Linked DNA regions of Homo sapiens: regions 2 and 3 are each linked to region 1. The links come from fine-mapping of genetic effects on plasma protein levels. Region 1 holds a variant in brackets. A gene starts in each other region. All regions are shown on their reverse strands.

Evidence for each region. A credible set is the group of variants that fine-mapping cannot tell apart. PIP is the posterior inclusion probability: the model's chance that the variant is causal. The UK Biobank Pharma Proteomics Project read protein levels with antibody pairs (Olink). The fine-mapping took linkage between variants from a reference panel, not from the people measured, so its PIPs are less certain.
Region 2: FSTL1 starts here. The variant in region 1 is the best candidate, but not a certain one, in a credible set for the plasma level of the FSTL1 protein (UK Biobank, PIP 0.57).
Region 3: it holds the start of LAMB1, and the variant in region 1 is the best candidate, but not a certain one, in a credible set for the plasma level of the LAMB1 protein (UK Biobank, PIP 0.50).

What each region holds. Positions count from the first base shown.
Region 1 is chr16:72,097,502-72,106,982 of GRCh38, reverse strand. DHX38 (DEAH-box helicase 38) reads right to left here. Exons shown (of 27, transcript NM_014003.4): 4 at 9,202-9,306; 5 at 8,191-8,338; 6 at 7,938-8,056; 7 at 7,703-7,779; 8 at 7,096-7,251; 9 at 6,386-6,547; 10 at 5,790-5,897; 11 at 5,371-5,483; 12 at 3,772-3,909; 13 at 3,195-3,381; 14 at 2,852-3,037; 15 at 2,357-2,497; 16 at 1,846-1,956; 17 at 1,635-1,751; 2 more. Among named protein-coding and RNA genes, the nearest start is that of DHX38, 8.4 kb to the right of the region's middle. RefSeq lists an enhancer at 7,481-7,981. The variant G/A (reference allele first, on the strand shown) is at 8,753.
Region 2 is chr3:120,444,640-120,455,333 of GRCh38, reverse strand. FSTL1 (follistatin like 1) reads left to right here and starts at 4,342. Exons shown (of 11, transcript NM_007085.5): 1 at 4,342-4,437; 2 at 4,588-4,650. The coding sequence starts at 4,588. LOC124900546 (a long non-coding RNA gene) reads left to right here and starts at 4,680. Exons shown (of 2, transcript XR_007096030.1): 1 at 4,680-10,694.
Region 3 is chr7:108,000,183-108,008,182 of GRCh38, reverse strand. LAMB1 (laminin subunit beta 1) reads left to right here and starts at 5,022. Exons shown (of 34, transcript NM_002291.3): 1 at 5,022-5,072; 2 at 5,212-5,334; 3 at 6,450-6,625. The coding sequence starts at 5,298. RefSeq lists an enhancer at 6,584-7,184.

The DNA.
Region 1 (9,481 bases):
TGGCCATGGTGGTCTCAAACTCCTGACCTTGTGATCGGCCCGCCTCGGCCTCCCAAAGTGCCAGGATTACAGGCATGAGCCACCACACCCAGCCATCTGTTTCATTTCTAGAACCAATGGGCCTGGGACTAGAATCATGGCTGGGTTTTATTTTCTTGATATTTTTCTATATTCACTAACGCTCTATAGTGAATACATTAATTTTTTTAATTGGAACAAAAAAGGGGAAGAGAGCCAGGCAGAGTGGCTCACACCTATAATGCCAACAGTTTGGGAGGCCAAGACAGAAGAATCGCTTGAAGCCAGGAGTTCACAATACCAGCCTGGGCAACATAGCAAGACCCCATCTCTACAAAATATGAACAAATTAGCCAGGTGTGGTGGTGCCTGCCTGCAATCTCAGCCCCTTGGGAGTCTGAGGTGGGAGGTTCACTTGAGTGCAGGAGATCAAGGCTGCAGTGAGCTGTGATTGCACCACCACACTCCAGCCTGGGGTGACAGAGCAAGACCCTGTCTCTAATTGGAAAAAAGAAAGAAAGAAAATGGGGAAAGAGAACAATAGAAATAAAAAGAACCAATGGCATCATCTGTCCAGACCTACCCTCTGAAGGGAGGCAGGCTGTAATTACCTGCATGTGTACCTACATCCACGTAGGTTGGCCTCAGACCTCTGAAATCCCTGGAAAGCCACTCCTTCCTTCCACTCAGTAGCATAGGATGAAAGGACTAACAAGTGGCAGCCCTGCCAGCAGCTTCCAGCCTTGGGGACCAGCTCTAGAGCCAGCATCCTGCCCGCCCCCGCCCGGGCTCCACGCTCAGCAACCCCAGCGCTGCCCCAGAAAGCAGGCTAGCACAGGGCTCCTACCTGAAACACTGACCTGGGCCCGTCCTGCCGGCTCGCCCTGACCGCTGGTTGGCATTGGCCTGGCTAATGGGATAGATCTGCAGAGCATCCATGCCAATCCTGGGGTTGAAGACCTAGGAGGGGACGGCAAAGAGCTGACGAAGGACAGAGTGAGGGGAAAGTGGAAGTAGGCCTGAGACAAAGGCAAGCCCTGGTTGCTACACATGGCAGAGGAAGAGCCAGGAGGCTCTAGAAATGTTCTCATGAACACCTGAAGAAGTCTTCCCCACAAACACCAGCTCTCTGAGCTCTACTGTTAAATTATCTACCTCATCGAGTATTACAAGGGTTAAACAAACCAAGCACAGTGAGTCAATGTGAGCCTCCCACCACCACCACCACTTCCACGCGCTCCCCACATCCCAGGGCCAGGAGCGAGGCCCTGGCTTCCCACCCCGCAGCTAAGTTAGCTTCTGGTGAACACCCAGGCCTTGCCTCCCATGTCTTCTCTTACCTTTAATTTGCAATAACCAGAATCGATAACAAACATGATGCCGTCAACAGTGAGAGACGTCTCGGCAATATTGGTGGCAACGATGCACTTCCGAACGCCATCTGGAGCCTAGAGCAGGACATACAGGAAGGGAAAAATGAGTCCCTCGAGACAGGAAAGGCTCCGCGAGGGGGAAAAGCCTACCTCCTAGCCCACCCCCTGCCAGGACAGTCACATCCCCTCTCGCTTCCTTTAGAGAACTCCAAGAGCCACTCCTGGACATTCCTGCTGACACACCTTCTGGAAGATTTTGGCCTGGAGGTCAGAAGGCAGCTGAGAGTAGATGGGCAGCACAGCCAGGGCAGGCGCGTTCTCCAGTTCCTCCAGATGCTCCACAATCTGGTCTGAGGTCACCTGAGAGCCCAGGGAGGAGCTGTGAGACACTGGAACCCTAACCTCTCATATGCAAGACACACCCGCTCATCACAGTCGTGACCAAGGCACGCACCTCAATGTCCTCTTGGCCAGGCATGAAGATAAGGATGTCTCCAGGGGCCCCCGACAGGTGCACCTGCAAGGACTGCTTCACTGCAGCCTCCACGTAATCCTCCTGTGGGGTCTGCAACAGCAGTGGGGACACAGTCAGAGGGAGGTACTAGAAGCGCAGGCCGGGCATCTCCTGGGAGCCCAGTGGCCCAGGCACTGCTCTGGAATGGAGCCATGGACTTTGAGGGCCACCACACCTCCACATGGGCCTGACTGCGAGGCCTCTACAAGAGGGCACAGTGCCTCCCTGGGCCCTGTACTTCAGCCTCAAAGAAATAATGAAACAAAACCTCACCCAGAGCAGAGTCCTTTGTCCCCGAGTCCCAGAGCTGCAGGCTGCCCCATTTGCCCCATGGTCCCCAGGAAATCTTCTCCAACCCAGTCCCCTACCCACCCTCCACCCTCCAGCCGGCTTCGCATCAGAGAAGTGCGTGGCATGGAAGGGTCAGTTCGTAACATGGTGGCCTCAATACCTTGCTGAAGAGGATGTCAACAGGGAAGGTACGGCCAGGGATGTGGAAGATGGGGACATTCCCAAAAAAGGCAGCAAACTTCTCCGCATCCATCGTGGCTGATGTGACGATGAGCTTCAGGTCTGAGCGCCGAGCCACTACCTGAGAGAAGAGGCGGCTCGGAGGCCCCCATGGTGGGGACCCTTGGCTCCTGTCCCCCAGTCCCATCAGCACCACCCCCGAGGAAACACAAGCCAAAGCTGACAAATGGGCCTATTCAATTCTTACCAATCATGAAGACTGAAGCAATGGAGCCACTGCCCAGAAAACCCCAAGCCACCCTCAGCAGAGCAAGAACAGCATGAACTACAACCCGAGTCTGAACTGCAACCAGAGGCCTCAGGAACCTCTGGCCTACCAGAGACCCCCTCAGCCCACCTGGAGCAACCCACTAGCTACTGGTGGTGCACTGGTCAACACCCCATGCGCAGAGAGACCAAACCACACAGCCCTCACCTCCCGGAGCAGCCCAAAGAGCACGTCAGTGTTGAGGGAGCGCTCGTGGGCCTCGTCCATGATGATGGCACTGTAGTGATCCAGGTCGGCTTCCCGGAGGGACTCTCGGAGCAGGATCCCGTCAGTCATGTATTTGATCAAGGTGTTCTCTGAAGTGCAGTCTTCAAAGCGGATGGCATAGCCCACCTGGAGGTCAGAGAGATGGCTCAGATGCCCTGGCCACCGGCTCACCACCAGCACACCCCGTACTGGGGTCCGAGTCTTAGCAGATCACACCCTTTAGCAAAAATGGGTGGAAGCTACTAGGGAATAACTACATGGCTCAGCCCCCACGCCCACTCACCTCCTCGCCAAGGTTTCCCCCCATCTCTTCACTGACTCTCTTGGCCACTGACATGGCAGCTACACGCCGGGGCTGGGTACACCCAATCATCCCATAGTCCGTGTAACCATCTTCATGCAGGTACTGCGTCAGCTGAGTGGTCTTACCACTCCCCGTCTCCCCAACCACGATCACGATGCTGTTGTCTCTACAAGGACAAGCAGGCAAAGGGCTTATCAGCCGAAGTGGAAGGCCAACACCCAGCCTCCAAGAAGACTCCGCTACCTCCTATCCCCATGACTAGCTATCCAGGGAGCATGCCGGTTTAGAAGGGAGAATTTCACTGGGACAACAGCCTCTTACTGAGATAACACCTGAAACATCTGGAATACGGTGAGGTTTAAACAGGTGAGCTAAAACAAAATGGTGCCATCCCGTTACTTTGTGCAGTGTACCCCAGGCATGAGGTCAGAGGAAAAAAGTATTTCCCTTCTCCACTGGGTGCAATGCACAAAAGAAAAAGAGCTCCTGGGTAAACATGGGAGACCAAGGGCACCCCTGACTTGACACTAGATTCCTGGGCCCCGGGTGAAGTTACCTGATAATAGTGAGCAGCTCCTGCTGCACTGCAAAGATGGGCAGGTACTGCCTCTGCTCCAGGATGGACTTCTTCTTTGCAAATTCACTGCTGGCTTCGCTCTTTCTCTTCATGTGATCTGCAAACTTCTGCTCTGTCCTAGGAACACACAGCAGCCTAAACACCCTGCATGGTGCCCCATGCTGTCCTTCCTGATTGGGTTGCTGCCCTCCTTCCTACGCTCAGGAATGAGGACTTCGGCAAGAGTCTGAGACACCAAAGCAGCCAGGGAATCTGAGATGGTTCTCATCGACCTCAGGACTGAAACTGCTACTTGAGAATCCATCATCCACAACACACTCGACACCACAGGGTCCAACAGAGCTAGCTGAACATGGATCGGAGGATTTACAGATCACCATATTAGCAAACCCTCTAACCAAAACAGAGTGAGCAGAAGAGGAGTGGAAATCAATCCCCAGGTCACTAACTTGTAGAAAATACCCTCGGGCAATTTCAGCACAACGTCTAAAGGGCTAAAATAGCCACACAGGCCTTGTGAGGAGGTAAGGGTGCAGAGCACGGGACATGGGTCAAACTTCCTCCCTCCTCTTGGCAGGACAGCAGGAAAGCATAGTCTGTACGGTTTTGTTTTCAAAGAACTGTGAAAACAGCCCCACTAAACAGTAACCTGCAACCTCTACTGAAAGCTCTCAATGTCTGACACATGTACACACCCGAGATGCAGAGCACTGTCACTTTCTCAAGGCTGCCTGGCAAAAAGACACCAGTTCAGTGCTCCACACAGTCCACACACCCCTCCCCAACCCCCTCCCCAGAGACTTCCTGTCTGATGTGCCGCCCCATGCTCTGCTGAGCTTCCTATTTCTAATTTCACCCAGTCCCTCCTGGTCACCCAATAACTAATACCTGAGGAATTAAGTTAACTAGAGAAGAATAAGGGCTGATCAATAGTACCAACTTCTCGTATGGACATTTCACACAGGAGTGGAGAGAATTATTAACTCAGATGACCGTTCAGTAGAACATAAGGGCATTCGAAGGATGAGGATCTTAAGGGACAGATAAGTCCAGCCACCTGCCCAATGCAGGAATCCCAACTCAGCATCTGCTTAGATGCCTCTATGAGCAGAGAAGTCACTGGCCAATAAGATAACCCTTTCTATTTTGGAACCTCTTTTAAAAATAGTTCTTATAGTGAACTCAAATCTAAGGGACTAAAACCCAGCTGCCCATGCTGAACACCTGGGAGGTACTTCAGCAGAGTGGCTCTGATGTGAGACGGCCTGGGTCTGATCCTAACTCCCTCACTGACAAGCTGGGTGACCTCAGACAAGTTACTTAACCTCCCTGGGCCTCCTTCCTCTCACAACACCAGCACCAGAGGAAGCAGTGTGAGGGAGGAGGAATCACATATAGGAAAAGTGGAGGACAGTGAAGAGACCAGGAGGAAGGGACCAGAGAGAATGGAAGATGCAGAGAGGTATCCTAAGAGTCTCCCACTCAGGAGCCACAAAGTCGATGGGTTCTGCCGCAACTGCCCACATGGGCCCCCATCTTTGGAGCAAGGCTGATGTGCTGCTGGCTGAGGCTGCCCACCTGTAGTCCACCTTCCCATCCTCCGTCACAGCTTTATCTGGCTCTTCCTCCTTCTTGACGCCCATTATATCTCCCAGTTTGGTCCCCGCCAGTTCCCAGTGTTTGTGCTGAGCCTGAAAAGGAAAAAGGTCAGTCTGCTCCATCCTGCCACATGACTGCGAGCAATGGAAAATCAATCCCACGGGAGAGCAGACTTCACCCCGCAGGTGGTAAACTCCCCCAGAGTGCTGGTGGCACCGAGCCACATTCCAATCCTCAAGCCTCCAGCTCTCCCAACACCAGGCCCCGCAGCTGTCGGGCCTAAGGACTTGATAGAGGGGACTCCTAACTTCTATCTGTGGGCCTAGTAAGACTTATGAAGAGAAGAAAAAAGAAAAAAATACACATAAACTTCCCAGCCACGAAACCAAGAAACCAACCTTCTTGCGCTCCTTCTGCTCCCTGTGCTTCCGCACTGTCTGGCTGCCTTTCCGAGCAATGATGGCCAGGTCAGAAGTAGCATCCTTCACTGGAATCACCGGCTCCGGCTGCAGCAGTGGGGAGAAAGAGCGATGCCCGTTAAAATCAGCAAGAAGGCCATGTTCATAAGATCCCTACTTGTGAAAGGGACTGCTACCCTCTCATGGTACAGGGCTATTTTCTCCCTTCTCTTCTTTCTGTCTCCACATCAGGCCTTTTTTGTGTGTGAGACAGAGTCTTGCTCTGTCGCCCAGACTGGAGTGCAGTGGTGTGATCTCTGCTCACTGCAGGTTCTGCCTCCCAGGTTCAAGCAACTCTCCTGCCTCAGCCTCCCGAGTAGCTGAAACTACAGGTGCCTGCCACCACACCCGGCTAATTTTTGTACTTTTGAGACAGGGTTTCACTATATTGCCCAGGCAGGCCTTGAACTCCTGGTATCCAATGATCCACCCTCCTCAGCCTCCCAAAGTGCCGGGATGACAGGCATGAGCCACTGCACCTGGCCCACATCAGGTCTCTCTGAGCTGTCTTGTCCCTGGCCACAGAGGAGCCTCACCTGCTTGGTGAAGACAATGCGCCCATCCAGAAAGGGAGGCACCAGATTGTGCACCATCAGATGCACCTTGGCCGCGTTGTCCTCTTCAAAGTCCTCATCCACCTCCAGCCGATGGACCACCCCACTGGTGAGCATGCGGTTTGTCTCCCAGCGCTCGTTATCCTGTGAGGACACAATGGGAGCCACACTCAAATTGCCACCCCAAAGGTCGTCCTGAAAGGTTATGAGGTAAGTCCACACATCAAGTCCTGACAGAAGGCCACTGGTAGCTGCAAAGATGTCACAGGCCTCTACCCACAGCTCCAAAGACAGAAGAGGTGCTGATCCCAAATCACCTGCAGGAGTTTGTTCCAAGCAGCAGCACCTTTCATCTAAATCAGAACCTCTAGAGGGACACACAAATGGTAAGTGTCCCTAGCCCACATCAGAGACACAAAGAACACAGACCACAGAGGCAGGTCCCAATGCACCTGTTCCCATCAACAGTACTTCCCCTCAAGGAAGTACTGCAAAAGAGAGAAGTACGAGCCGGGGCTTTCCTTAAGCTACTAAAAGGCTCATCACCCACTCCTCTTCCACCTCCAGAGGATCTGGGCTTCTCGGCAATCAGGGGACAAGCTGTGCTGCCCTCACTTGGGGATAACCTGCTGCTTCCCCACGTGCTCTACCTCCAGCTCTGAATCTGCTCCAACTTCTGCAGGCAGCCTCACCTCATTGATCTGTCTCCGCTGAGCTGAAATGCGCTTCTGCTTCTGTTTATGCAGGTGCTGCTCCCGCCTCCTCACGTAGTCCTCGGAGGAGTAGGCCAGCGGGTTGTGGAACTCGTCATAGCCCTCGTCCATCATGTACCAATCCCGATCGGCTTGCTGCAGGGCAGGAGGCAAAGCAAGGGAGTGAGGGACAGATCAAGTTTATGCACGAGACATGGCCAACAGAAGAAGGGACGCTTGGTAGGAAGTCACTACTGCAGTGGAGCTACCCTTGTGAGGGGTGCAGGAGAGGCCTCCCTGCAGACACATGCCATCTGGAGGAGAACCACAGTGGGCAACTACACAGGACTGGAGGGCAGCCCATCACGATAGCACTTCTTAGATTTACCACATGGTGGCACCAACACATAACAGAACAGTTAGGTCAGCCTACTGCAGTGAGTGACAGGGTTCACCGTGCCGTCTATGCCTCTGCAAAGAGACTCCAGGGCATTGGGTCTGAACAGGGCTCAGGTGTACCCTCATCAAAGCCCAGTCCTGCTAGAGGGTCACCCATCTACAGACGGCCACCAGCCCCGATCAGCCCCTCAGAGGTATAAAACTTTACCCTCTGGTCATCTTCCCACTGCTGCCGCTCCTCCTCCGTGTCAAATGAAATTCCTTCTTCGCCCTCCTCACGTCTTCCTGGAGGAGCACAGGAAGCAGGTCAGTCCATGCCCTGGCCTGTCCCCAGCGGCCCCAGACAGATCTGCAGGGCCATGCAGCTCCAGAAGGGCAGCCCCTGCTCATCCTCGCTAGGGCAAGCAAGCCTGCTCTTCTGCCTGCTGCCCCACAGGCCTCACCTCGGCCCCTGGACAGACGCGGGGTGGACCCCAAGTGTCTTCTGTCATCGGCCCACTCGTTATATTTGTAGGAGGGAGTTGGCAGAGGCGTGTCATCCGAGTACTTGCCCCTCACAGACCTGGGAACAGCAGCACCAGCATCACAAAACTGTCACTGAGCTAAGCCACGTCCTCCTGGCCACCATCTGCTCTCCCTGCCGAGGCTCCTTACCGCCCACCCAGCGAAACTGGGCTGCTCTGCCCAGAACATCACCTGTCTCGATCTCGAGTGGACAGCCGATGGCTCCGCTCAGAATCCCGATAGGAAGGCGTCGGGGAGGGCGATTCCCACTGTGAGCGCCTTGAGGAGCCATAGCCACTGTCCTCTTCCTCCCAGGTAGACCTTGAAGGGGTGGCTGCATCTGGGCCACAAAAGACACATCCACAGGAAACATCTCACTTAACCATGACATGGTCTAGAACCAGTTGCCAAAAGTCAATTCCCCAAATTTACTCCTTTTACTATTTCTAAACCTTGCATGTATCTATAACGGTTAAGATCGGTTTTGACAGTTTTTAAAGATATCTCAATTTTTAATGGTCCAGGATGTATTTTTCCTTTTTTTCTTTTTTTGAGACAAAGTCTTGCTCTGTCGCCCAGGCTGGAGTACAGTGGTGTGATCTTGGCTCACTGCAACCTCTGCCTCCCGGGTACAAGTGATTCTCCTGCCTCAGCCTACCGAATAGCTGGGATTATAGGTACCCACCACCACCCCAGGCTAATTTTTGTATTTTTAGTAGGGATGGGGTTTCACCATGTTGGCCAGGCTGGTCTC[G/A]AACTCCTGACCTCAAGTAATCTGCCTGCCTCAGCCTCCCAAAGTACTGGGATTACAGGTATGAGCCACTGCACCTAGCCAATGGTCCAGTTTGCATTCTGTGTTTATGACAACATTTTAAGGGATATTTACTTTATCTCTACAAACACACCCTTCTTGGATATAAGTAGTTCTTTTTAATAAACACTTCTTCTACCTCCAGCTCCCTATTCTTTCCTACCATTTGGAAAACTGGCCATTCAGCAAACCAGCCTCTCACCTTACAGGAACCATATCCACCCCAAGTGCAGAGCTGTGCCCACCTGACTCAGAACCAACTATCCCAAGATGTTCATGGTAGAATCGGGAATTCTGACTCAATGCCTCAGCAATCTCACTGAAGACGAGAGTCACTCACTCTGCCTTTTATACACTTGAATCCTCACAAGCCACCAAAACAGTGAGTCTACCTTTAGGTCGATGTCGTGGGCTCTCGGGTTCATTTCTTCTGCTGCTACGCTCTGACCCTCCATCTCGCTCTGATCTGCTGCTGTGCCTACTTCTATCCCGCTCATCTATGAAGAGTCACACGAAGCTTAAAAACATGCATCCCATCCTAAGGTATACACATCTTCACCCTAGAGAAAGGACAGGCTGCCCACTCACTCACAGGTGCAACCTGCACTGCTCGAATGTGATCCGTGGACTCCTGAAACTCACCTATCCCCATTCTCCCAAGGGGGAAAAATA
Region 2 (10,694 bases), not on the chromosome of region 1:
GGGTCTCTCTCTGTCACGGAGGTTGGAGTAAAGTGGTGCAATCATGGGTCACTGCAGCCTCCACCTCCCAGGATCAAGTGATCTTCCCACCTTGGCCCCCTACTCCCCCCGTAACTGGGAATACAGGGGTATGCCACAACACCCAGCTGATTTTTATATTTTTTATAGAGACGGGGTTTTGCCACATTTGCCCAGGCTAGTCTCGAACCCCTGGGCTCAAGTGATCATCCCACCTCAGCCTCCAAAAGTGCTGGGATTACAGGTGTGAGCCACCATGCTGGTCCCAAGTTATTATATTTTTATATTTTCAACAAATGAGTAAATAAGCCACTGGAATTCTGTCTGAAGATTTTTAAACAGGTTAGAAAATTTTGTGTAAGTTTTTAAAATGTGCATACACGAGAGTTTTTATGGTGCCACACTTTTATTGTTTTGGATAACAAAATAGCCTAATGATAAGACATTTCCAAATATCTCATTTCAAAATATTTTCTCCACTGCATAGTTTATTTTTGTCTTTTGCTTTATTTATTGTAGAGTTAACCATACGCCACAGCACAGTTTTATCATCAGTACCTGTAAGAGCTCTCTAGTGAATTATTTCCGTAGTAATACATCTTATTTATATGCTTACTGTGTACCAGACACTATTCTAAGTACTTTACATATTGATACATTTAATCTACACAATAGCTCTATGAAATCAGTACAATTATCACGATTTTACAGATGAGGCAACTGAGATGCAAGGGGTTAAGTAACTTGCCCAAGGTTACATAATAAGTAGTAAAGCTAAGATTTACTACCAAGGCAATTTTGTACCAAGGCAGTCTGTCTCATAAACCCATGCTTTTAATTGCTACAGTACACCACAAAGATTGCACTAGTCACATGCTAACACTGATATTGTCCAACTGTCTGATTTTTGCCACTGTGATGAGTGTAAAGTGACATTTATAATTTACTGTATAACTTTGGACAAACTACTTAAACTCTGTGTGTGTTTCTTCATCTGTATATTGGAGATAATAAAATAATACTGATTTCAAATGGTTGTTGTGCAATTTAAATAATAGTAGTGATGTTGAGTATCTTTTCTATATTTATTGTCCATTTGGGGTTCCCCTTTTGGGAATTGCCTATTCATACCTATTGCCCTTTTTTATTGGGTTTTCTTTTTCTGATTGATTTGCAGGGTGTGTGTATGTGTGTGTGTTATGAGTTACATGTCAGTTTTAGACATTTATATCTCCTTCTATCATTTTGTCTATGGTGCCCTCAGTTGAACAGGAATCTTTCATTTCATTTTGATATACTCAAATCCATTAATTGTGTTCCAAATGTAGAGAGGATAAAGATATGAAAAACATTGTTTTTGCTCTAAGCAACTTAAAACTAGCTGGAGAATCAAGAATAACTATGAGAACAAGTGTTAAACATTGTATAGCAGTCTGCAATATAATGCCCCAAGTTGTAAGGCTGTGTAGCCAACAGTATAAACTTGGGAAAGTATCTAAATCTTCCTGAGCTTCAGTTTTATTTGGAAAACGGAAGCAATAAAAAAGACCTTTCCATTTACTGTATTTTTTAAATTTTTATTTTTTATTGTTATTATTTTTTTGAGATGGAGTCTCTCTCTATTGCCCAGGCAGGAGTGCAGTGGCACAATCTCGGCTCACTGCAACTTCTGCCTCCCGGGTTCAAGCAATTCTGGTGCCTCAGCCTCCCAAGTAGCTGGCACCACAGGTGCCCACCACCATACCCATCTAATTTTTGTATTTTTAGTGGAGACGGGGTTTAATCATGTTGGCTAAGCTGGTCTCGAACTCCCGGCCTCAAGTGATCCGCCTGCCTTGGCCTCCCAAAGTGCTGGGATTACAAGGCATGGGCCACCGTGCCCAGCCTCCTTTCTATCTATTGTGAAAATTAAATAAAATAAGAGATGTTGAATGGCTTTCATAGTACCTGGTGTATAGTACCAACTACAATTTAGATGCAAAGCCGATCATGAAATAATAATGGCTATCACATACAGAGGTCTACTACCTGCCAGGCACTTTTTATATGCATCTGCTTAAATTTCACAACTCCCTGCAAGGCATTATCACTGCCATTTGTCAGAGGCAGAAACCTAGGTTCAGAGGGCTTATTATTTGATGCAAGTCAGGCCATGCAGCTAGTAAATGGCAGTGATAGGATGGAAAGCCAGATTGGTTTGACCTCAAACCTCCTGTGCCTTCTACCATGCCAAGCTGTTGTCAGAAAAGATATGAAGGAAGCAAACTTGACGTGGTTCCTGAAAACAAAACAAACAAACAAACCCAAGCATTTTAGTAGATAAGAGGAAGGGAGGAAAGATGATACCAGATTCTGAGAGGGTGCAGTGGATCTGCAAGGGATGCAATGTATTGTGCGTTATTCGAGGGCAGAACTTTATCCACAATAGTTCCCTTCAATCCTTGCACAGTGACCAAGACAGAGTATCTGGTGCGGAACATCTATTCCCTAATCTTATTACCATAACAAGGGAGCAGGAGTAAGTTGTCTGACTGGAGAGTTTGAAAGAACTGGGGATGTGTCACTCTACCCCCTCAAGTTTGGGGAGCAGGCATGTCCCAGGAGGCACATATTTTCTGCTTTTCCATGCAGTTTAGTTTTTACACAGGCAGGTTTTCCAGCTCTGCTTGTGACTGAGTGGACATGTTCAATTCTGGGCCCGCTGTCCCTGCAGATCTAAAGCCATGGCTGCCATTCCAGCCTTTAGCAGAGACAAAGCTGACATTTTGCTCTCCATAAGTCTGACTCCTGTTGCTATCTCAGTGGATTCTGAACTTACATGGGGACCATGGGTATTATCTTGAAGCCCCCTAAAGCCACAACAGTGGGCACTCAACAAACCTTGGCAGCAGAGTGAGTATGACAAGTTCAGAGGACAACGAGGAGATGGGCCTGCTTTGAGCGGAGGAAGTATGCTGATGTAGTTGAAGAGAAGTTAGATGGACAGGGTGGGCCCAGTAATGCAGGGCTTATAAGAAAGGCAGAGTTTGGATTTGATGTGGGTAGAAGAACGCTGAAGTTTCTGAGTAGAGGAAGAACATGAACACGAGGAAGACAATGTTTAAAATAAGGGAAAGAATATGACAATGGATTGCAGTGGAGACTACAGGGGAGAGCCTGGAGTCAGAGGACAACGAAAGGAGGTTTCCAGAATTTCTGAGTGAGGGAGGATGAAGGTCTGGCCTAGGAAAGTGGACATGTGAACGGAGGCGAGGGGATGCATATGAGATCTCAGCGGCTAAACTGCCAGGCTATGGGTACAAGCCGGCTCTGAGAAAAGGAGATAGGTTTGAAGGCAACCACCCTGAAAGAGGTAGATAAGCAGGCCCTGAAGCTGGGGGAAGTGAGGCTTAGTCTTGGGCATGTGAAATCTGAGTTGCTAAGTGGATCTGCTCTCCTTACTAGTTATGGCAGGAAAGGCGCCTTAATTAGGAGCATTTTAGGGAGTTAACCCTGTCAAAGAGGTAGCACACTTTCGAAGGCCAAGGGCTGGGAAGAAGGTGGTGAAGATGGCAATCCTGAACACAGAGGCTACTTGGGATGACAGGGATGGGAGGAGGGACACAGGTGATGAGTGAGTGGGCGGAAGAGAGGAGGGGGACACCGCTCCCCGGCCCGAGGGAAGGAGGGGATGAGGCTGCCGGCAAACGCTGGACTCAGGATCTTCCCAGCAGAGCAGGGCGGCCGCCACCTCACCCGGGACAATGCACTGTAGAACCCACAGCAGCCTTCCCCACGCCGGCCGGTCTTCCCGGCCCTGCGCCCACTTCCCGGTGCCCCGCTGCCCTGCTGCCGTGACCCCGGGATGCGGGGTCTCCTCTGCCTCCCTGGGCCTCCCCCTTCAGCCATGGGGGGCGGCTCCGCTTCCTAGGCCGCGGGACGTCTTTTCCTCCAGGTTCCAGTCCCGGACCTTCCCGGGCCCCCCACGGCACCGCCCACCTGGCCACCGCCGCAGCCCGCCCGGGCCGCCGCCAGCCAGCAGCCCCTCCCGGGGTGGGGTTTCCCTTCCCCCTACCCCTTTGTGGCAGGGACCCACGGGACACCCCCTCTGCCTCCGCTCCACGTCCAGGGGGCCGAAGGGGCGCCGGACGAGGGACCGTGCGGAGAGAGGGGTTCGGCGGCGCCAGGACTCCCGCGGGCTCCCCGGAGCAGGGGTCGGAAGGAGGGGGAGCGGGAGCCGCGGGGGCCGCTGCAGCAGAAGGGGGAGGAGAATGGGGAGGAGCTGGGGGGGCAGGCAGGCGGGGAAGGAGAGGTCTTAAGGGGCGGCGAGGGGAGGTCGCATTTCCTCCGAGGCTGGCGATCGGCGGAGCTCCCACCTCCGCTTACAGCTCGCTGCCGCCGTCCTGCCCCGCGCCCCCAGGAGACCTGGACCAGACCACGGTGAGCGCAGGGCGCACGGCGCGGAGGCCGGACTCTTCGGGCGGCCGGGGGTGCTTGGGCGGCCGGAGCGAGCCTGCGGGACCCGAGCAAGTTTCCCAGGTCAGCGCGGGGCCCGGCGCCTTCAGACTCGCTCTCTTCTCTCTTCCGCAGATGTGGAAACGCTGGCTCGCGCTCGCGCTCGCGCTGGTGGCGGTCGCCTGGGTCCGCGCCGAGGTAGGCGAGGGGCCGAGGAGTCCGAACTCGGTCCCCGGGGCCTCTTGGGTCTGCGCGCTGGGCGGGTGGGCGCGCGTCCTGGGGATGCTCTCCCGGGGTGGCGCTGGGAGTTTCGGTCCTTGGGGTGTGCTGGGGTGGAGCTGGGGCAGTAATGCTGCTTACGAAACTTAAATCTTTAAAGCAGGAAAAGTAGTTCGGGCCGTAAGCGGGAGCCCCGCCGCGGCTAACATGGAGGGAGAGCGGGGAGGAGGAGAGGGGACGGGCTGGGCCGACGGGGACGAGGCGGCGACTGGAGCAGCAGCGAGTTCAAAAAGGCGCCTCAGTTCCGTCCTTCACTTCAGAGGAGACTGAGAGTAGTTGGGGACTTTTCCCTCCCAAGTCTGTCTCCTGGGGGCGGGGGCAGAGGAATCGGGATTCTTCTTTTGGGGCAAAATTAATTTTCCTTTCTCTCTTTTAAAGTGAGATCATGATTCTCTGAAATGTATTTTCTTCTTTGTGAAGTGTCCTCGGGTTTTGTGTTATCATCTGGGCAATGTAACGGCCTTTTCCCAAGTGTTCCCTGTAACGTTGCGCAAGTGTAAGAGAAGATCCATTGCTCTGCTCTTTGGGGGCTCGAGTTTCCAGTTAAAGCATTTCAGCGCTTGTTTTTTTGTACCAATTTTTTCAACTCTAACGACCTTCCTGAGACACTACAAACAAACCAACAAACTCTTTGCTCAGAAGCCGCTCCATTAACTCAAAGGTTTATGGACAGAAAATAAACAATTCTAAATTCCCCGGGCTCCAGTCTCCAGGAAAGTGAGGTCAGAAACTAAACATTTGATAATTATGGCAGGAAATATGGAAGGAATTAAAAAGCATGAGGGAGAAGAAATGGAATGCACATTACAAAAGAAATAGCTCCCTGGTGGGTGGTTTATGCTCCCTGTTTGAATTTTTTCCTTCATATTACAGTTTAACCACACCCTTAGCATCGCAGCTTGACTCTGCCCAAAAAAGTCATAAATGCATACAAGGTCTTCACAATTTTTAAAAAATACGCATTGTACTGAATTCTCATTTAATTCACTACTACGTTGTTGATTGAGGTGGAAACTCAATCAACTGTTTTTACTGCCAATGAAATAAAAGTAGCTAATATTTATTAAATATCTGCTATGTTGTAATAAAATTCCATTTTAATGACAGATAAATTGAGTCAGCGAAGGTTACCCAATGCTCTCAGCTATTAAATGCTAAGGGTGGGATTTGAACCCAAACAGTCTGGCTCCGGACCCAAGGCTCTTGACCATTAACCCACACCACTTCCAAGCACAATGGTTTAACATTTACCAAGTACATTTTTGTTTACCACACACTGGGCTGTGTACGTTACCTGCAGTTACTTCTTTTAAAGCTCCCAAACCCTGTAATGTAGGTTTTATTATCCCGATTTTACAGAGGAAGAAACAGGTTTAAGGAGATTAGGTAACTTGCCCAGGGTCATACAACTAGTTAGCTCTGAAGCAGGATCTGAACCTACCTCTCTTACCTTTGGAGCCCATCTTGAACTCCAGGTCTGCTTCTTATCCATCTGGTTTTCCAGGGTTTGCATTTGAGAGCGTATCCCCCTTCACTGGCTGATGTAGCCCTGGTTAAGAAACATTTCTCCATCCCCTGCTGTGGCCCTCAAAAGGCAGTTGCAGACCAGTGATGGATGAGGTGAATCCCTGGTTGGTTTTCCAGCAGGCTCAAGAATTGCCAGCCAGTGTGTGAAATCACTCAGTGAACTGGAATGCAAATATGAGGTGTGAGGAGGCTGTTGGTTGACTTACCAGGCTGTGTGGCCCAAGGTCTGGAATCTATTCTAGGCGGCCTGCAAGACACACACCCCTCCCAACCCCCTTCCACACAGGGAAAACTTATCCCTGGTAGGAAGTTCCCCCAGCAGCAATTTCCTGCTGGAGGTAGAAGAGCATCCAGTGCTCTCACATAATTCCCAGGCAAACTACAGGGAAGAAGGCAAAATAGAGAAGTACTGAGATGTGAAAACAGAGTGCGTTGGGGGAGAAAAGAGGCTGTGAACTCACAGTGTATGGAAATGGTTACAATGAAAAGAGTGAGGGGTAGGTATGAGCTAGGTTACATTTCATGGCTCCAGGTTATTAAGGATTATTATCTTTTAATTATTCCAACCTCCTGGTGCCTGGCCAAGTAAGATTTGGCAAGTTTTTAATCCATTTAATAATAATATACCTTTAACAATTGATGAAGAGGTACATTAACCCTCTCCCTATGGGAATTGTAATTTGGATTTTTTAAAAGCCTTTTATCTTGTAGTTAATGGTGCTTGCTGTTTAAATTTCTTCCTTGTTAACTCTAAGGACAGTCTGCAAAAATGGTCACATCATGATATTTACAGTCCTTAGTGACAATCTATTTTAGTAAACTTCAAATCGCTAAAATTGTACAAATATTGTTGAACTTTTTAGAAATGAAATTTAGAAAATAAATTGAGGCTTCTTGGTGCTTTCTGCTTTTCTGCGACCATAAATATTTAATTCAGCATATTTTTAAACAATTTAATCACTTTACAAATCATGTTGATATTTGAAGAAGCCAGAGCCTCTGTAGTAAACCAGAATCAGAGGTGCTCTCCACTTGGGAAAAGGTGATTGTCATCAGTATTAATGCCAGTCTATGTCAATCCCATTTGGTTAGATTCACAAAGCTATTAACAAAAGTCATAAAGGAGCCTGGGCTCAGTGGCTCATGCCTGTAATCCCAGCACTTTGGGAGGCCAAGACGGGAGGACTGCTTGAGCCCAGGAATTTGAGACCAGCCTGGGCAACATCGTGAGACCATATCTCTACAAAAAATAAGAAAATTACCTGGGCATGGTAGCACACACGCCTCTGGTCCCAGCTACTCAGGAGGCTGAAGCAGGAAAATCACTTGAACCCAGGAGGTTGAGGCTGCAGTGAGCCGTGATGGTGCCACTGCACTCCAGCCTGAGCAACAGAGTGAAACCTTGTATTTAAAAAAATAGAAACAAACTCATTAAGCAAAGTGTCATATTGTTTTGAATGTGTTCCATGGTGTCCTACTTCCTTGGCACCTCAGGGTTGCTTTCTGATTGCTTCTTCTCTTTCTTACCTGCTCACTCTCTTACTACTCTGTCTGCAGCATATACCTTCAGCCAGCCTCCCTCCAGATTCTGCCACATCCACCTGAGCACACACACCCATGCACTCTGTAGTCTGCTTGAAAGAAGGTACTGGGTGTAGCATATGTCTCTAGATGTGTGTAGATTAACATGTGAATGGACTAGGCAGAGAGGGCAGCAGCAGAGGGAGTGCCTGCACTAATAATTACACAGATATCCCTTTTCTAGATTCTCTGGGGAGAGGACTGTGTGAGCCTGCTCATCTACTCTTTCCCATCCCCCTCCCATTGGGAATTACTACAGTTCATTGAGAAGTGTTGATGGTGGATGCATAGTATGGAGCCTGGGAAAATGTTAAGAACACAGGCGGTAGTGTGTGTGCCCTTGAAGCTCAGTCAGTGGATATCTGTCACTCTAACATGGCAGGCTGGAGAGAACCCTGTGGCCCAACTGCCTGCTTTAGGAAGACAGCCCTGGCAAGTACCCAAGCATACCCCCACTCTCCCTTGGTGGATGTCTCTGCTGTCACTATGATTCCCAGCATTCCAGGTCTAGAAATTCATTATGATAAGTCACATGTACAGTTAACTGATTTGTAGTTCAGAATCCTCATTCCAGTAAGGGATCCATGCTTGACCCATGAACTTTGAGTGTATTACCTAAGAGAGAACAATAGCAATTCTACAAATAGATGTACTTCACTTAGCTCTAGACATGCAATACTAGAAGATTATGAGGGCTTTGTCCTGAGGCCACGTTTCTTAACCTCACCGTACCCTATTATCGGCATTGTACACTAGGGGTTATATTTGGGAGCTCCTCTATGTTCTTTAGAATTGTTCTGATGGTAGACTCAAGTAAGCCTTGCATCTAACCCATATCTCTGACTGCATCTTCTTGGTGCCACAACTTGTATTATTAACAAAGCTAAAAAGATCTCTAAAATGATCTCTTGCTTGTTTATCCTTTGGCAAATAAGCTACTTGTTGCAGTTCTAAAGACCATTGCTGGAAATTGGGGTGTAAAACATAGCAGGGGCTGTGCAGACTAGCCAGAACAGAAGGGCAAGCACCCAGCATAGGAGGCCCTGGCCATCGCAAGTGGCTTTAGAAGGTGGACACGTTACAGTTCCCCTAGAAGTCTCTGGATTGGGTGACAGAAACCAGGACTCCATCCCCAGGCTCATAGAAGCAAGTTGGAGAGGAACCATGAGGTGAAGATCTGGTCATGGGCTGAAGTGGATGTAATGATCCGAGAGGAAATGCCCCAAAGACGAAAAGAAAGTCTTTGAAGTCAGTGGGGCAGAGCAACACATGCTGCCACAAGAATAGGAAGTAAAGGATGAGCTGTAAATTACCAGTGATCACATATGAGAATTGAAAATGTCATGGATTCTTTGTCTTAGTCCTCTTCAAATAACTGGACATCTGGCAGAATGTTTCTAACAGACATAAATTTTATTAGCTTAATGATACCAGTTAATAGGGAAAAAAAGTACATTAGATAGGTTCACTTTGTAAGCCAGATGATTAATGTCCTCAGAGGGCAAATGCATACTTTTTGTTTAGGATGCTCTATTCTGACTCCTGCGATTTTGGCAAGGGGTGCTTTCTCTGAGAGTATGCCATGAATGGCGTGGCCTTCCCTTCACTGTCCTCATCGAGCCTATCCCCTGCTGCAGCTGAGCGCACCTGGTACTCAGGTCAGAGTCACAGTGAAGCACAAGGCATGGTCTCTGCCCTCACATTATTTACAGTCTAGTGGTGGGTCCAGGTGCTTTAAATCGTGGCAGCTACAGTTTATATTATTATAACTACATAGTAACTAGTAGCTTTATACTTATTGCTGTTTTTTTTTTAATTTACATTAATGTAGGGCCTTCCTTTGTAAGATCCTTTTATGGTAGCAAAATGCACAAATCTTCCATGTATAGCTTCATGAACTTTTACATCTGGCCCATGTAGGCACCATGCGACAAGACTGAGGGAGTTAGTACAGAAAGGTATGAACCTGTATGTTACCATGAAGTTACATACAGGAAAAGTTACCATGAAGAAAATGAGGGATAGGGATGATCTAGGGTACATTTCATGACTCTCTGCCCAAAGATGGCTATCTTTTAATCTGTCTCTTCTCTTGGTGTCTAGCCCAGGTAACATTTAGCAAGTTTTTAATCCATGTTTTAACAACAGCAAACCTTCAATAATTAATGAAAGATAAATTAATCCTCTCTATATGAGACTTACTATTTGGATGTTATTTTTAACATTTTAACTTGTTAACAATAAATGGCTTTCCTTGTTAGCTACAAGGATGTGCAGCAAACACAGTGAAATACAGCCTTAATTGACATTAATCCATTTTAGTAAACTTTAGATCTGCTTTGGGGAGCTTTCTTGACTGTTTTGTGGATGGATAGATATTCCAGGGCTCACTGTAATCTATATTGAATTCCACAAAGAACTCAAATCATTCTGTTAGACCACTTTGCCCTGGTCATTATTACTTTTGAAAGGACTCTACATAAGATGTCAGTCATGTTATTTATGACAGCAAAAAACTTAACATTGACTACATAGTCAACCGTAGGAGAAGGGTTAAATAAATCATGGAACAGCTGTATGTGCCACCAAAAGCATTTACAAAAACATTTTGAAGCGCCGGCAAATGATTATAATTTAATTTAAAAAGCACACACCCCCCAGCTTTATTCTCACGACTGTAAAAATTTATAGAAAAGTACAACAAACAAATGTGTTAGAAATTATCTGTAGGTAGTGGATTTATGGGTCATTTTATTCTTTGCTCTAGTCTTTTCTATATTCTCTAAGCTTTTAATTGGCATATTTTATTTTCATATTTTATCAGAAAATAACACATTAACTTTTTTATTTAAATA
Region 3 (8,000 bases), not on the chromosome of region 1:
AAATAGCCACATTTCAGGACCCAAAGATTGAAGTCTAGAATGTAGCATCCTTGTTGTTCTACTGTCAATCAGGATTTCAAAGGAGACACACACGGTGTTCTAAGACTGTGTGAAAGTGAAGGTGACCTTGAAAACAGTTCTTGTTTTGTTTTCAAACGAAAATAATAAATGCTGCAGGGAGATAACTGTCACACATTCTTTGAGACAGAACAGCCAACAATTTGCAATCCCATCTGCCATTTAAACTGCTGCAGAATTCTTTGGTAAAGACTGCTTTATGCTAAAGCAGGTAGTGCCAGCTTAGTACAAATGATAGACGAGAGAGGGTTGTGTTGACAGCCAGAGCAAAGCCCTGGACAGGCTTACTAACAGAAGAGATTCATTCCTCCTCAACTTGTCACATCTTCACAAATCAGAGGAAATTGTATGAAATATAATAGACGAGAAGAATTTGTGAGTGAAACTTGGAATTATTCCCAAAATTAAGTCAAGTGGTGGTATTTCTTTTTCTCTTTGGCTAGAAATTCATATTAAGGTAGAAAAAAGTGGACATTTAAGATTTAAGGAAGTTTTTAAAACATGGAGACTAGTCTTCATTTACTTTCATTCGAGACACACTTATTGAGCACATGTAATGTGCCTCATTTTATGCAAGGCAACATTAATGCAAAAACGAATGTTACACAATACTTGTCCTTGTCTCACTGTCTATTGGGGGAGATAAGGGCATAAACAAATAGTTACAGCATTATGTTATATATGCTGTAACAGGCTTTTACAAGGAGGAGGAGAGAGAGGCTCATGGAGAAAGTCATGTTTAAGAGGAGTCTTCAAAGGTGTGCAGTTCACTAAGTTGACAAGGTCAAGGAGGACCCACGTAGTGAAAGGAAAGCCATGAAGGAATAAAGTATGTCATACACAGGGAAGGAGCAGAGGGCAGCCATTGAAGGCTTTTGAATAAGGGAATGACATGATCAAAGTTTTGACTCTGAAAAAATCCTTCTGCGGGTATTAGGAAGGATTAGACTGAAGAGAGGAAGAGTCTGGAAGTAGGAACACTTGTCGGGGGCTCTGGCAGGCATTCAGACTGAAATCTAAGGGAGGGCAATGAGGTTGGAGCAAGGGGACATGCTGGCTAGTTGCTAGGAAAGTAGAAATGACAGGACCTAGTGATGGGGAGGGGAGGGAATGAAGGAACGAGAGGTGCCCAAGATTCCCAGGCTAGGCTGGCTTCATGGGCATGTGATTTGTGCAATTGCACAGCACCCCCTACCCCACTCAGGAGAGTCCCATGCTAGGTTTAATGCTCTTTCACTGTCTTTACATTAATAATAATAGAGGGGCTCCACATTTGTGCCCTGCTAATCATGCAGCCAGTCCTGTTCCCAGATCTCCGTCTTGAGCTAAGGGGTGGATTATGGTGCCAATAATTGAAATGGGAAACAGAAGACAGAACACATTTTGTTGTAGGAGAGGTGGGTGGAGAGATTTCAGTTTTGCCACAGATGAATTTCATTTACCTATGGGTCATCAAAGTAGAGATATTCAATGGCCTGTTGGAAATGGTATGTAAATTCCAAGTGAGGTACAAGCTAGAGATATGGGAATTAGAGGTTGAGGAGAGTCCAAGTGATGCACCCCTGGATATGGATGAGTAAAGGGAGCAGAAAAGAGAGACAGAACCTTTGGTAGCACCAATGTTTAAGGGATCAGAGAAGGGCAAGATAAATGGGAGAGGAGGGGTCAAAGTCTTGTGGGAAAATTCTGGAATTATGTCCTGGAAGCTAAGGAGAAAGGAGTCTCAAGAAGGAGGGTGTGATCATCTGAAGCATAAGCCACAAAGAGATCAAATAAGATCACAATGGGAAAACGTCCATTGCATTCAGATTAGAAAGTCAAGGGCACTTACCAAGAATAAATGTGTGCGCAAAGAATTGCAGGGTGCACAGAGCTTCCCCTCCTTCCTAGGAAGACATTGTAGATGCCACGCCCATTCCAAGCTCTTGGATACGAGGGGCGGAGAGGACGTGTCACTTTCTAAAGAACAAACACAACAGGTGGACCCTGTTTCTAAAGGGTTAACCCGCCTTCCCCGAGTGCAGGGCATGAGAGTTTTAGCCGTGGGCACCGTTTGGTGATTCTCCAAAGGAAGGAGAGGGAGTATAGAGTCTTTATCCTTCATTCCAGCCACATTGCCTAGAGCAGGAGTATGGAACAAAGCTCAAGCTTTGATTGAGCAAACCCTAGAATTTGCTCAATCCTTCCTTTGGCTTCATAGCTCAGGTTCTTGAAAGTATAGTTTGCTCTTATGCTCTGCTTTCCCCAAGTTCCTCCTCCATTCCATGGCAGTGTGGCTTCCATCTCCACCACGGTTCTTGGTAACTGACCTTGACTTTTTTTTTTTTTTTTTTTTTTTTTTTGAGACGAAGTCTTGCTCTTTTTGGCCAGGCTGGAGTGCAATGGCTCAATCTTGGCTCACTGCAATCTCCACCTCCCGGTTTCAAGCAATTCTCCTGCCTCAGCCTCCCAAGTAGCTGAGATTACAGGCGCCTGCCACCACACCTAATTTTTGTATTTTTAGTAGAGACGGGTTTCACCATATTGGACAGACTGGTCTCGAGCTCCTGACCTCGTGATCCACCCGCCTCACACCCCTTACAGGCATGAGCCACCATGCCTGGCCACCCTTGGCTTTCTAATTGCTGAATGCAATGGACATTTTCCCATTGTGATCTTATTTGATCTCTGTGGCTTATGCTTCAAGATCTCCCTCTTGAAACTCTTTTCTCCTTAGCTCAATCTTTGATTCCATGAGCAAATCTCCAGAGCTCAAGCTTTGATTCCATACAATGTAGAGTTTGTGTTGTTTTTACTTAAAACAGGAGGAGGCTGAGCAAGTATATGAGAGCACTGAACTTAGTAGATGAGAGGAGGGCACACTTCTAGGAGAGAAGCACAAAAGATACAGGTGGGAAGGGAGGTAGGCAAATTCATAGATGAAGTGGTCAGAAGGTGAGTGTTACACACACTCCTCCCCCTGCACATATACAGGCAAATTTTTAAAAACCTAATTTTCTCAGTAGTGTTCAATTTACTACTGCAAGTGAGGTGATCAGGAGAGCAGGTAGGCTTCTGAACAGTGCTGAAAGTAAATGACCTTTTGCAAGGGGAGAGGACGCTGAGCAGGGACAGGTAGCAAGGAGGGCTCAGCTGCTGTGAGAGCAGAGGTTAGGCTCAAGAAAGAAAAGGAGCTGAAAGATGCTTGCAGTGTGTGCACATGAAAATACGAAACTCTGGCCCAGGGTATTAAAAGCTCAACAGGAAGAAAAGACATTTGCCTTTTAATATTTTTCTTTTAATTAAGCCCTGAAGACCCTCCATTGCAATTCTACAGCCTCCCAACAGCAAGGACTTTCTCAGCGCTTTCAGGCTACCCAGCCGGCGCAGAGGATCCTAAGCCTCAGCAGAGGCAAAACCTCCCCAGGCTGTAGCAGGGCAAGTGCTGATTTGGTGAATAATTAATGCCTCACTCACCTAGACCCCAAGGCTCCCGCCTGCCTCAGACTCGTGCAGGCTTACGAACTCGTAAAGCAGCTGACTCTATGGTCTAATGATTAAACTTCTCTGGGCCTTATTTCGTTACAGCTAAGTTAAAAACTGACCAGCTAGCCGCTTAAACTCTTCTCCCGGAAATGACTGGAAAACAAGCCAAGTCTCCTGACTGGACTGACAACTAACTATACTCCCTGAATTCCAGCCACATTTGCCCAGAGCAGGACTCCAAGCTTTGACTCTGTCCATTGCTAAGGGTAGCAGAATGGGTGGTGGGGTCCCGTCACCAACCTCTTTTCCCTCTCCAACCCCTAGAAGGTGGTGAGTTTCTATGTACCCCTAATTTCACCAGGCAGGTTACACTGTGTTGTTAGAGACCCTTCATTAGAGGCCCTCTCCCCACCTCAGCATTTGCACACCATGGAGAATCGTCGAGATGAGCGTTGTGGGGAAGTGCCTCTCATGAGAGATTTCCACTTCCTGGCTGTGTCAACTCTTCCACGGCGAGATGGGAAACGGAGTCAGTAACAATAATAGTGTCATTTGAGGAATTACCTGAGCTAAAGCCATCATCTGGATATAGGTAGGAAGATTTTTTTTTTTTTTTGAGACGTAGTTTTGCTCTTGTTGCCCAGGCTGGAGTGCAATGGCACGATCCCGGTTCACGGCAACCTCCTTCTCCCAGGTTCAAGCGATTTTCGTGCCTCGGCCTCCCGAGTAGCTGGGATTACAGGCGCCCGCCACCACGCCCAGCTAATTTTTGTATTTTTAGTAGAGATGGAGTTGCACCATGTTGGAAGTAGATTTTTTAAAAACAGAACTGGACGTTCAATTCAATGCCGTGACCACCTGGGTAACAGGGATTACAGATAGGTCCTGAATAAATGTGTGCGCAAAGAATTGCAGGGCGCACAGAGCTTCTCCTCCTTCCTAGGAAGACACTGTAGATGTCGCGCCCATCCCAAGCTCTTGGATACTAGGGGCGGAGAGGAAGTGTCACTTTCTAAAGAACAAACACGACAGGTCGACCCTGTTTCTAAAGGGTTAACCCGCCTTCCCCGAGCGCACCGCACGAGAGTTTTAGCCGTGGGCACGTTTGGTGATTCACTTCTTGCGAACGTAAATGCGCGAGTCCGCGGTAGGTCCCGCCGGCCCCCTGGCTGGGCAACCTGAAAACCCACCTCGGAGACGCCCCCACGCATCCGCCCCCCTCGCTGGACGGCCCCGCCGCGCGCCGTTCTGGGACGCGCACCCCGGGGCGGACCCGCCCTGGGACCTGGAAGCGCCCCAGCCCCGCAGCGATCGCAGATTCGGCTTTCAAACAAAAGAGGCGCCCCGGGGGGTGGGACCGGGACCTCACCCGGTCCTCGCAGAGTTGCGGCCGCCCGCCCCTTCAGCCCCGGCTCTCCGTATGCGCATGAGCAGAGGCGCCTCCCTCTGTTCCTCCCAAGGCTAAACTTTCTAATTCCCTTCTTTGGGCTCGGGGGCTCCCGGAGCAGGGCGAGAGCTCGCGTCGCCGGGTGAGGAGAACAAAGTGGCTGCACGATTTTCCCCACTTTCCAGCCCACCCCCCGCTTCCGTGGGAGCGACAGGAAATGGAAGGGCGCCTCTTCTCTCTTTGAACATTTGCCTTTTTTCCCCTCCTTTCCACCTCTCCAGAAAGGAAGACGGGAAGAAAGGGCAGGCGGCTCGGCGGGCGTCTTCTCCACTCCTCTGCCGCGTCCCCGTGGCTGCAGGGAGCCGGCATGGGGCTTCTCCAGTTGCTAGCTTTCAGTTTCTTAGGTAATTCCGTGGAAACGGTGCGGGGAGGCGGACGGACTTGGGCATGGGGAAGGAAAACCCAAAAGCTGCTTGCTCACCTTCGTGGGATCCTGGGGGCTTGGGAGAGGGACTGGATGGAAATGACGCCCCTGGGATTAAACGCCACCGCCCTTGCTTCGGTGGTGGCTGGAGACAGCGCACGCGGAGCGCCGCGGACCCTCATCCCCCGGGCTCTGCGCCCAAGCCCCGGCCCCTGCGGCCTCCCGCGGCCCCCGCTCAGGGTTTTGCACCCTCGGCCGGTTCACCCTGGGTTTCCCCACCGCAGAGGGCAGGTTCCCTGGGGTTGGCGGTGCTGACCGAGGAGGGCTCTCCAAAAATCCATTGCCCAGGAGAGTGCCTGAGCTGAGCGGAGGCTTCATTCTGGGAACAGATGGGGGCCATGTGGCTTTAATTAACCATCTCTGTTTGTCTCCGGATGGCACCAGAAACAGCAGGACCTGGCGCTTCCCTGGAATGGAGAAGCCTTGAAACCACTCCAGAGCCCCAGGGACTGTCCATGGGCTCCCCTAGCTCCGGAAAGCGGCGTCCACCGCGAGCCCCGGCGCCTCGTCCCCAGCGAAGCGCCGGTGACCCTCGCGCGTGCACGCACACGCACTCTCGCTTCCCAAGCTCACAGATCTCCACGCGCACACTCACACCGAGGATGCGCGGGCTGCCGCGTGCACGCGGGTTCACGTGCGTGGGTGTGTGGCCCTTTGGGGGTCAGCCTCCCTGCGCCGGGCTCCGGACACGTCGAAGTGGAGGGTCTACACATCCACCCTTTGTTGGGGGAGCTGCTCCCCGGGGCTGATCAGGGTGGGCGCGAGCGTCGGTGGGTTTCCCGGGAGGGAGGCTCTCGCTGCTGGACAGACCTGATGACGTGTGTGGGTTTCTTTCCGTGTCCTTCTCCTTTCGGAGTCCCTGCCTTCCCAGCCTCTCCTGCGCTCATCTCTCCATTGTCTTTTCTGTGCATTTTGCTTTCTTCCGAATGGACTGTCCTCTCTCCGCACCCACTCCCCCGCCCCCGCTTGTTCGTTTTTTTCGGGCTCCACTCCCTGCTTGTGTCCCCCCAACTCTGTTGCCTGTCCTTCCCGCAGCCCTGTGCAGAGCCCGAGTGCGCGCTCAGGAACCCGAGTTCAGCTACGGCTGCGCAGAAGGCAGCTGCTATCCCGCCACGGGCGACCTTCTCATCGGCCGAGCACAGAAGCTTTCGGTGACCTCGACGTGCGGGCTGCACAAGCCCGAACCCTACTGTATCGTCAGCCACTTGCAGGTGAGGGCTGAGAGCGGGGTTCGAGGCTCTGCTAGCGCCTCCTCCCGTCCAGACCTAAGGGGCAGGCCCTGGGGACTCCGCATCCTTCCAGCAATCCAGATAGGAAGCGCAGCCAGCCGGGGAGTCCCGGGATTAGGCTTGTAGCTCAACCTTTCGCCCCATCTCAGTTTGCACAGTTGCATCCGCCACACATTTCCTGCCGGCGCGGTGAGTATGGAAAGGCAGGACTGCCGACAGCCCTGGCTGCCCTGACCCAGAGCCTCCAAAAGGCCTGATTGTGTGTGTGTTTTTTAAAACTTTAGTTTTGGAAGTGTGCATTAAAGGTGATTTATCCTCTTTTTAAAACCCTTGGGTTTCCCCACCCCCCTCTACCGCATCTTCACTTGGGTAAAGAGGATTCCAGCAATGACAGGCGTCTTGCAAGGTGATTCCAATCACTGAACGAACCCGTTTTCCTCTCCTCATTTGGTGCTGTTCCCAACTAGATATCAGGATCAGATGCTTGCTTTTACGAAATGCCCTGGTTGCCATGGTACCCTGATACAGGAAGACCACAGTGAAATTTCAGGGTGTTACCTGTTTCTAAAAGAGGGCCCAAATTTTAGATTTCAGGGGTCATATTTATACAAAGTCAAAAGTAATTTTAAAAGAAGACACAAAGTGTAAAATATTCAGAATCAGAATACTTTTCCTTCATTTTTAAAAAGGAGGCTGGCCGGGAGCAAAATGGCTCCATGCCTGTAATCCCAGCACTTAGGGAGGCTGAGGTGGGAGGATCACTGGAGCCCAAGTGTTCAAGACCAGCCTGGACAACATAGACTCAGTCTCTACAAAAAATTTTTAAAACTTAGCTGGGCGTGGTGGTCCACACCTGTGGTCCCAGCTGTCTGGGAGGCTGAGGTGGGAGGATCACTTGAGCCCAGTAGGTCGAGGCTGCAGTAAGCGATAATCAGTCCACTGCATTCCAGCTTGATCAACAAAGGGAGACCCTGTCTCAAAAAATTTTTTTAAATAAAGGCTGATATTTCTGGCCTCTAACAAAAGCAGAAAGTATCAGTTTCACATTCGGGGCAAGTTCCAAGCTAATTGCTCAGAACATGGTCAGCCCACCCACCTGTACAATTGCCCTTCAGAAGGAGGACAGAGTATTGTGTGTGGTTTGCACAGCAGATCCCTTAAAATGGAGTCACTTTTACAAAGCAGAAAGCCCATTCTGGAGACCTGATCAATTAGACCAAAGGAATGTGGTAAAGTGGATTCCGTTCATTTGCTTCCAGGTTTATACAGAGATGTCTAGACTGCTTCCTCCTGATTAGAAGGGAGGCTGTAATTAAACTTTTTTAAACTTTTTTTTTTTTTGAGTTCTGGTGATTGT